Linked DNA regions of Homo sapiens: region 2 is linked to region 1. The links come from fine-mapping of genetic effects on gene expression. Tissue or cell type: cerebellar hemisphere. Region 1 holds a variant in brackets; the other region holds the start of a gene. All regions are shown on one strand. Distances are between the middles of the regions.

Evidence for each region. PIP is the estimated chance that this variant, and not a neighbour inherited with it, causes the effect.
Region 2: it holds the start of SVEP1, and the variant in region 1 is fine-mapped to the expression of SVEP1 in cerebellar hemisphere (GTEx, PIP 0.98).

The regions. Positions count from the first base shown.
Region 1 is chr9:110,503,857-110,509,008 of GRCh38, forward strand. All of the region lies in intron 5 of SVEP1 (sushi, von Willebrand factor type A, EGF and pentraxin domain containing 1), which reads right to left. Among named protein-coding and RNA genes, the nearest start is that of SVEP1, 73 kb to the right of the region's middle. The variant G/T (reference allele first, on the strand shown) is at 1,995.
Region 2 is chr9:110,577,593-110,582,744 of GRCh38, forward strand. SVEP1 (sushi, von Willebrand factor type A, EGF and pentraxin domain containing 1) reads right to left here and starts at 2,149. Exons shown (of 48, transcript NM_153366.4): 1 at 1,421-2,149. The coding sequence starts at 1,951. RefSeq lists enhancers at 1,016-1,516, 1,517-2,017.

The DNA.
Region 1 (5,152 bases):
GGTAGAGGCTTATAGTTGCCCACCCAATAGCCATTCTCACCAGTTTTATTAAGCATAGTAATATGCCCAGCTAAAAGATTACAACTCTCCACCTCTACCTCAACTAATGAGAGCCCATAATATATAGCTGAGATTGAGCAGGACTTCTGGAAAGCTTTTTATTTTTTTATTTTATTTTATTTTATTTTATTTTATTTTGTTTTGTTTTTTGTTTTTGAGATGGAGTCTCACTCTGCTGCCCAGGCTGAAGTGCAGTGGCGTGATCTCAGCTTACTGCAAGCTCCACCTCCTGGGTTCACGCCATTCTCCTGCCTCAGCCTCCCGAGTAGCTGGGACTACAGGCGCCCTCTACCACGCCCGGCTATTTTTTTTTTTGAATTTTTTTATTAGAGATGGGGTTTAATTGTGTTAGCCAGGATGGTCTTGATCTCCTGACCTTGTGATCCGCCAGCCTCGGCCTCCCAAAGTGCTGGGATTACAGGCGTGAGCCACCGCACCCGCCCTTGGAAAGCTTTTTAAAGGGGGCTGTCTCAATTGAGAGAGTACTTCTTTCCCTTCCCTGCTTCCTTCTCCTTTTCTTCCACAATACAGACATGAGGAATGGTAGCCCAGCATACTAGAGTATAAGTATATGATACTGTGGGAACATATCATGCACCATGATGGTATAGCAAAAAACATAGGAAGTCTGGCTCTCTGATGACAGTGGAGCTATTACACCAACTTTGGATTACCTACTTCTGTCCTTGTTTTAGTTAAAAGAAAAATGAAGCCTTAATTGGCTTAACACATTGTTATTTGGGTCCCTGATACCAGCTATACACAATTTCTAATTCCTTCTGCCCAGCATTTGGGTCCTTGATACCAGCTATACACAATTTCTAATTCCTTCTGCCCAGCATTTGGGTCCTTGATACCAGCTATACACAATTTCTAATTCCATCTGCCCAGCATCCATTAACTCTTCCTTTGTTAATTTTTTAGGGAAAGATCTTCCCCCTTTCTTGGATCATGGGATGTGTGTGTGCTCCAAACGTGCTCGGGGTAGAGCATGTTATCTAGGAGCACATTTCCCCGGCCAGAGAAGTGAGCAGGCACAACTTGTGACATGGTTTTCTTCATCTTCTTTGAATTCACCATGAGAAAGCAGTAGGAAGGATATTCACTAAACTGCGGATGCTGAAAACGCCCCCGTACCTCAGCCAGCCTCAACATCACCATCAGAAAAAGTGCCACGAGTTATCCAGAGAAACCTGCATTTCCGCGGTTCTGCCACCTTTGAGTCTCTGTCCTCAACATTACATCAGAGAAGCTACCAGAGAGCACTCACACTGTTCCAGCCTCTGCAGGTTCCCCAACGATGTCTGTGTTCTGAGTTTTCCTGGTAAGAGTCTCCAACTGCCCACTCAAACCCAACAATGTATGTTAGAGTCCATTTCCATTGATTTCATCATGCCCTCTATTCCTGTTGATGGCAATCACTTAGAAAGTCCAAGGCTCTATAGTTATCCCTCATCCACCAGGGTTATCCACATGTAGCTGTGTTCCAAATCTATCCCCATAGACCCTTGGACCTGCCCCCTAGAATAACGATGGTTTCAGTTAATCCCCTCATATCCTAAACTTCCTTTTGAGCAACTTTTCCTTCACTTGATTGCCCTAATAAAAATTATATTGTCTTCTGTAACAGGGACTGGAGGTGAGGAGGTGTCTCTGTTGCTCCTGATTGTCTTCCCAGATCATTCTCTCTCCTTCCTTCCTAAAAACTTCCAGCTCCTTTGAAGTATCATATTATATATCCAATAACCTTTTTTAAATTCTCTCTCTCTCTCCTTTCTCTTTTTTCTCTCTCTCTTTCTCTCACACACACATATACCCACACCTTAGTGACTTCCTTATCTATGTAAATGATCATTCCAGTATCCTGGAGTTATATTCCTGATCTCTTATTTTCTTTTCTCTCTTTTTTTTTTTATTATACTTTTAAGTTCTGG[G/T]GTACAGGTGCAGAACATGCAGGTGTGTTACATAGGTATACACATGTTATGGTGGTTTGCTGTACCCATCAACCTGTCATCTACATTAAGTATTTCTCCTAATGTTATCCCTCCCCTAGTCCCCAACCCTCTGACAGGCTCCAGTGTGTGATGTTCCCCTCCCTGTGTCCATATATTCTCATTGTTTAACTCCCTCTTATGAGTGAGAACATGCAGTGTTTGGTTTTCTGTTCTTGTGTTAGTTTGCTGAGAATGATGGTTTCCAGCTTCATCCATGTCCCTGCAAAGGACATGAACTCATCCTTTTCTATGGCTGCATAGTATTTCATGGTGCATATGTGCCACAATTTCTGTATCCAGTCTATCATTAATGGGCATTTGGGTTGGTTCCAAGTCTTTGCTATCGTGAACCCTAGAAGAAAACCTAGGCAGTACCACTCAGGACATAGGCATGGGCAAAGACCTCATGACTAAAACACCAAAAGCAATGGCAACAAAAGCCAAAATTGACAAATGGGACCTAATTAAACTAAAGAGCTTCTGCACAGCAAAAGAAACTTTCATCAGAGTAAACAGGCAACCTACAGAATGATCTCTTCTTTTCTAATGATCATATCCTTCACCTTATCTCAGCTTCTACCATTGCCATGCCCTCTAGACCTCGCTGTCACCAATCCAAGTTTCCTAGTCTCTGACAATCACCTCTTACCTTCTGGGATCACTCCTTCAAGTGCTTCAATCCATCAGTTCCCACACCCTCCAGGAGCCTCTGATCTATCATCTTCCGTAGTCTCCTCTTTAGAGAAAACCCTCTTGAAAGAGTTTATAATCTTGTCCTACACTTCTTGTCCTCTAGTTCTAACTTAGACTCTCTCCAATCAGGGTTTCCAAGCAGGGGAAGGAGGGAGGAGCGTAAAGGAGAAAGGAAAAGTCGTGAAGAAGGGAGGGGAGAAGAAAGGAAAGAGAAAGGGAGGGGAAACATAGGTGGAGGAGATGAAGAGGAGAGGAGAGGAGAAGAGGAAGAGCAGGGTGAGGGGAAGGGGAAGTCAGAGCAGGAAAGGAGTAGGGGTAGGGGAAAGAATAAATAGGGAAAAGAAAGAGGAAGATGGGGAAGCTGTCAAGACCCATGGAAAATGCACTCTCAGTCAGAAGGCATGCACATTCCATTCACGAACAGAGATTGGAGAGGAAAAAAGAGTCGGTGCCTGTTAAATATGCCAAATGATGGGGACGTATATTCATCTTGATAGATTATAGATAGAACCTACAAGCATTGGACATCGTACAAAAGACAGAAATAACCCCTACAAAAGAATAAAGTTCAGTTTCCTCTCAGAGAGCTCTTATAACAATCTCTAAAGATTTTTGAACAAAACATTTGGGACTCAAGAATTTTGTTGAGACTCCGGGTGGGATATATTTTTTCTTCTTCTACTTTTCTGCATTTGCCAATTGTTCATACCATGCATACATTTAGTTACGTCAAAGACAACCTTAAAATACCAGGAAAGGAAGCTGGGGGCAAAATGTTCAAGTGCATATTCAATTGAAGTCACTGTTTGAATTTATTCTACAATGAACCCATTCAAATTATATTAATCAGCAGAGCATAAGTATTGTGTGCATTAAATAAAAGTTTAGGATCCATTACTCCTTAGAGAAAATGCAAGAGTTAGATTAGAGATTAGATCATAAACCCTAGCCTCTTTTATCCCTGGAATGGCTTGGACCAAAGTCAAGTATTAATAAAAAATGATCCGAAACATTTTGCCTTCCGTGTTTTAATTTTTCCTGAATGTGCCCATTTATGCAAATAGAATCTTTATTGTGTCTATCAAGTGCATGAAACATCTTGTCTTCTGCATTTTGACTTTTATTGAGTGTGTCCTTCATGTGTATCCCAAGGCAAAGTATGAGGTGGGATTAAAAGGTGAATCAGATAAATTCTGATGTATAAAATTTGGAAAACCATATTAAACAATGTTTTGGCTTCAACAAACTGCCAAGATGACTCCAGCTTTCCTAACCTGAGACAAAATGGATTTATTACTGATAATAAATTAGAGTCGGTGCCTCATATAGATGCAAATTATACTGCTTCTCAGATGTTGGTATTAATAAACTTCCATTGCTCCCCACTGAAAACAAAACATATGCAATAATTCCTATTTATTCCTTAAACATTTCACTCAAGAATGAACACTTAATACCATTTTAATAGGTACACACTTCTTAAAGAATTTTCAACTTATATTTTTTTCATTTCAACATGCCGAAAAATCCTGCAATTAATATTTCTTGACTTACATTTATGTTATCACAATTCCTAAATATTTATTTGGTCTTTTTAGAAAATAGCAACTTAGACTTTTAAGAGAAAAGTCTACTTGTAGTAGACAATATAAGAAGCTACTCTGGTTCCCATCTTAAAGACTAATCAGATTTTTTTTTTTCCAGGCACGTGCTTCCTATTAGTCTCCAAATTGTGATATCTATTACTGAAAATAAAATAAATCTGATGTTAAATGTAAGGTTCTCATTGGTTGAACCTTTTTACTCAGGTTTAGTTAGTTAAGATTGAGAAACCACAAAAGAATCCTTTCCTGTTTAGAAAGAAATGCAGAATTCTGGCCGGGTGCGGTGGCTCACGCCTGTAATCCCGGCACTTTGGGAGGCTGAGGCGGGTGGATCATGAGGTCAGGAGATTGAGACCATCCTGGCGAACATGGTGAAACCCCGTCTCTACTAAAAATACAAAAAATTAGCCGGGCATGGTGGCGGGTGCCTGTAGTCCCAGCTACTCGGGAGGCTGAGGCAGGAGAATGGCGTGAACCCAGGAGACGGAGCTTGCAGTGAGCCGAGATCGTGCCACTGCACTCCAGCCTAGGTAACAGAGCGAGACTCCATCTCAAAAAAAAAAAAAAAAAAAAAAAGAAAGAAAGAAATGCAGAATTCAGATAAAACTGAAAATGAGTATAAGTGCTTTATGAAAAGTGCATAGGAGAAGTGAGAATCAAGTTTACCAATTATTAGTCAACATCCACAAAAACATTAACAATGTAACATGATATTTGTAAAAGGCTTTAGATTTTATGCAGGTCTTTCATTTCTGCCTCAATCTTACACATATTTTTGAGAAAGTATAATATAACTAAAAT
Region 2 (5,152 bases), 74 kb after region 1:
GATAGATTTGAGTGTATAAAAATGTAAACCATTCATCTAACAACATTTCCATAAACAAAAATAAAAGGCAGTGAACTGGAAAAACATTTGCAACATATACACAAAAGAATTACTGGCCTCACTATATAAAGAACTTTTGCAAATCATTAAGAAAAAAAAACAAGCCAATGTGTTAAGAAAAAACAAACAAGCACTATAATGGCAAAATGGGCAAAAACTATAAATATCAGAGGAAAAAATACAAATGTCCAGTAGATGTACTGGAAAATGTTCATCCTCAAAAATCAAAAATGTGTATTTGCTAAAATGATGCCTCCATCACCTCTTAAATTGACAAAGATATTAAAAAGAATAGTATGATATTGGTGAATATGTGGCAAATTTACTGCTGAGATACTCTGCTGATGAGAATATAAATTTATACAACCCTCCAAGGGAGAAATGGACAATAGTATCAAGAAGTTACAAATGTTCATAACCTTTAGTTCAGGAACTTTTATAGAAATTCTTCCTAAAGATGTAAACAGAGGAGTCCACAAATATTTATGTTCACGATAACTTAGTAAGGAAAAATCCTAAGTGTCCAACAATAAGTGATTGTTGCACGCAATGGAATAGTATGCAGCTAATGTAGAACATTTTAATTAGGATATAACAAACGAAAAATGTAGGCTACAAAACAGCAAGATATTAAAAGTATGAATGGATGTACATACTGGGCAACTGTTCAACAACCTGCAAACAGTGGCTTTTTTAAAGTGATGAAATTTTAGGGTTTTTTTTTCCTCTCCCTACTTTTTGTTTAATTCAGTCCACAAACACTGGCTTGCTATTATGTGTTAGATATTTCTATATGTTTCTTTTTCCCCCACTGAATATGGATTAATTTGTAATCAGAAAAACAGACACACTTTACAAAAGTCCGACATCCCAAACTGACTTCCTCTTCCAGATATTAAAAATCTAATAAAGGATTGGAGCAAAAATAGGAAGGGCACGAATCTTACATTGAAAGCATAACATAACTTTAAAAAGAATTGGGGTTAGGTTTATATCACTCCATGTCCTACCTTTAGAAACACTTTGTAAACCATGCTCACCTGTTTCAGCTTGGATACCGTCTGCTCCTACAAACGTGAATGTGATTAGCGTTTCAAGGATCCCTTCCTAACAGGGTCCTCGAAGCCGACTATCTAAGGAGCCTGACATCCCTCTAAGCGTTTTAAAATCCATTATCCCATTGGAACCTCCACAACAATAATAGGCGGGTAGCGATGACTCTGGTTTTGTGGATGGGGACGCTTGACTTGGGGTGGTTATGCCTTGCCCAGGACTGAACCCCGGGATAGAGACGGGCAGGCAGCGGTGGGTCGAAGGGCCCGGGGACTAGGGCCCGGGTCGGGAGGGGCGGGCGCCTTACCGCGGCTTGCTGGAAGGCGCCCTTGGTGTAGGTGCCGCCACCTCGGTAGGAGATGGCAGGGATCTCTTGGAGGAGCAGCGCGCACTTGTGCTGGCGCGCGCGGCGGGTGGAGATGTAATCGACGCGCGGCACCACGTAGTTCTTGGACGAGAAGGTCACGATGGCCACGCGCGTGGCCGTGGGCACCACGGGGAAGTCGGACAGCAGCTTGCGGACGAACATGAGCTCGCTGCGGAAGTTGACTTCGCCCACGCTGGACGAATCATCCACCAGGAAGACAAGCTCCAGGCGCTCGCTGAGCTCCCGCAGCAGCCGCACGCGTCGCCGGAACGCCTGGCCCAGCCGCTCCACTCTGCTCCCCGCCGCTTCGTCGCCAGGAGCGGGCGGCGCGGGGATACTCCCGGGGGCCCCGGGCGCGGTCTCGGGGAAGAGGCGGAAGCTGAAATTGCGCGACGGGGACATCTGCTGAAAGGTCGCCCAGCCCGAAACGAGCGCCAGACCCCAGCAACAAAAGGCCAGGCGAGGCCACATCGCGCTGGAGACAGAGCGGCTGCCCCGGAGCGCAGGCGGCGGCTCGGGCGGGAAGAGGCGCTGGGCGGCCGGACTCGCAGAGGGGCGTGCGCGGAGCTGGGCGCGGGGCAGCGGCCAAGAGCCTCAGCGCCCTTTCATCTGACACTGGGGACAGACACAATCCAGACTCCTCAGCAGCTCGGGAACTCCGGAGGGAACGGCGCGCGCTCTCTACCCCTCTCGCTCTCCTCTTTTTTTCTTCCCTCTCTCCTCCTCCTCTCTCTCCCTGAAGCCTATAAAATGTTTGAAGGAAAGGGGGCAGTCAAGAAAAATCTCCCGCTTCCCTCCTTCTCTCCCTCTCTCCCTCTCCCCGCTCCTGTCTACTTTCTGTATCTGTGACTCTATCTCCCTCCTCCCCCTCTCATTCTCCTCCCGGGATCAAGCCAAAGGCTCGGAGATTCCATGACACCAGAACCCCGCGTCTGTCAGGCTGTCAACATTCCCGCAGCAAGCGCACCAGCGCCGAAGCCCTGATTGATCCCATATGTCTGGCAGGAGCTGCAGAGGAATTCACTGGAGATGGATCCAGATACCGAGAGTGCCACAGTAATTGGAAACACTTTGTAGACGAAAACATACACGCGGACTGGCCAGGGAGTTGAAAGCATCCTTTGAAAACTGCTTGCTCACCTTTTGTGTTTCTTTTCCCCCATTCAGTGTCCCAAAGCCCTCGCCAAATAGATGATTGTACAATTTTCCTGATGGGGATTTCTAATCAGTGGTGTGTGTGAGCGTGCAGATTAAGCCCTTAAGGGCCCCCTCAGATCACACCATAAAGGAGTTGCATCTAACCTTATGCGTTCCACAGGAATGATTTGTCATGGTACTTCAGTCGTGCATTTATTCATTCATCTGTTTGTTCATTCTTTCCTGATTTTAACAAATATTTTTTGAATACCCATTGTGTGCCAGGAACTATGTGAGGCACTGCAAATATAAGGAACAAAAATTGACAGGGATTCTATCCTCAATGAACTTAAAGGGTAACAAGTGAGGTGACCATTAACCAGATATTAACATACAAAATATATGTAATTACAAGTGACCATGCTAAATAAAGGAGAGCTTAGGTAGACAGACTTGACCTTGGAGAGGCCAGAGAAGCCTTCTCTGAGGACAGAAAGTTTGTGCTGAAGTCTGAAGTGTAAGTAGGGGGTCCCCAGTCCCCTTTCATGTGTTCTTGATCTATTTCAACAGATAAGATCCACCTGGCTTTAAGTGGTACCTGGCATATATCTGCTTTGAAACAAGTTGCTACCTGGGGTGGTTTTTCCAAAGCAAGACCTCCAAAGGGGAGAGCGCACGTGTAAAGAAAAGGTGCACTTTGCATGAGGGTGGGGCCTTTGGTTAAAAGATTCCAGCTGGGAGTCAGGAACACCGTGTAGGTAAGCCTACGGTTATGTAAACCACCTGAACTGAGTCACTTCCAATCCTTGGCTCAGCATCAGTATCTATTTCATGATGGAATTCAGTGATCTCAGTTTCCTCTGTTTCTAATAGTGAATGATTTAACTCCGTCTGTATTTAACAAAATACTTTCAGTGACAAGTATCACAATGTATTGTGTAACATGTTAGGGCTCTGGCATCAGTTTTCCTGGACGAAATCATGACTCTGCCATTTATTAGTTGTACAGCCTTGACTCAGTTTGTTCATTTGTAAAATGGAGTAATAACGATAACATATTAAGGGCTGTCATAAGGATTAAGTCATAAAAAAGTAAAATTCTTAGGACAATGCTTGGAGCATAGCGTGTACTCAATAAATGCTGGCTGGTTGCTCTTATTGCCACCTTTAATCATGAATGTTCTTCAAATTATTTTCCTAACAATACTTATTGACCACCTGCTATGTGCTGGCATGTTAGATACGGAGGATTTAAAGGTGAATAAGACTGAGTTCCAGTCCTCCAGAAGTTCAAAGAACATTAGAAAAGAACATAGATTTGCAAACAATTACAAAGCAGTAGGGTGACTGCAAAAGCAGAGAAGAAAGAGCAAGGAGGAGAAAGATCTCGTTCTTCCTGGGGAATGAGTAAGACTTCATTTGAGCTGGGACTTTTTTAAAAAAAAAAAAGTTTTTCCAAATATCATCTACTCTGTGTTATTTAAAACACATCATGAAGCCCTTTATGTGCAAAGCACCGTGGCATCTGCAATGTGTGCCATCTCCTGTGTTCCCCACACAAACCAAGGAGGTACTCAATTGCTTTAGAACTCTTGCTGCAAGTAAGTGGCACCTAATGTCTCCTCATTTAAACAAAAAGGGATTTTTTGGTTAGTATAACTAAACTAGGGAAAGGGCAGAGGGTACAGCTGGTCTCAAAAAGGCTTGGAAAAGGAAATTAAAAACTACTTAGGTCTTTAATTTTTCTCTCAGTTTGGCTTCTTTTTGGATGCCACATTTAGTCTCTTCTTCGGATTTATAACCTGAGAAAGACTTTTACCCCACCAACTCAAGTTAATAATATTTTGAGATGTCTGCCATAGGCCTAGACACATTCAAAGCTCTCTGGATAATTCTAACACATGCCCCAAGGGTGAACGCCTAAGAACAGCACTCTGGCATTGTGTACCTCCAACGGGATGAACAGTCAGGCCTATGTTACTTGTCCTCATGGTAAGAGAGTGGGGACACATCAGTCAGAGAAGTCCTGCCTGAGTGTTATTAAGACTGCTGCTCCAAGTCTTGCCACCGCTCCCCAGAGCCCTGTAGTCCCTTCTGCTCTCTAATCTAAAGCAGTGGTTCCCAGCGGGAGAGATTTGCATGTCTCACTCCCAGGAACCTTAGGCAATGTCTGGAGACATTTGGGGGATGGGGCAGTGCTACTGGCATCTAGTGTATAGGAGTAAGGGGTGCAACAAAACCTCCTACAATGCACTGGCAGCCACCACAACAAAGAATCATCTAGCCCCAAATGACAATAGTGGTGAGGTTGAGAAACTCTGGCCTATACCACAGTAATAGATGCAGAAGATGACAAAAACTTGTTAGACTAAACATTAAGATTAGAAAGGCTGGGCACAGTGGCTCATGCCTGTAATCCCAACACTTCAGGAGGCCGAGGCGGGTGGATCATTTGAGGTCAGCAGTTCGACACCAGCCTGACCAACGTGGTGAACCCCTGTCTCTACTAAAAATACAAAAAAAAAAAAAAAAAAA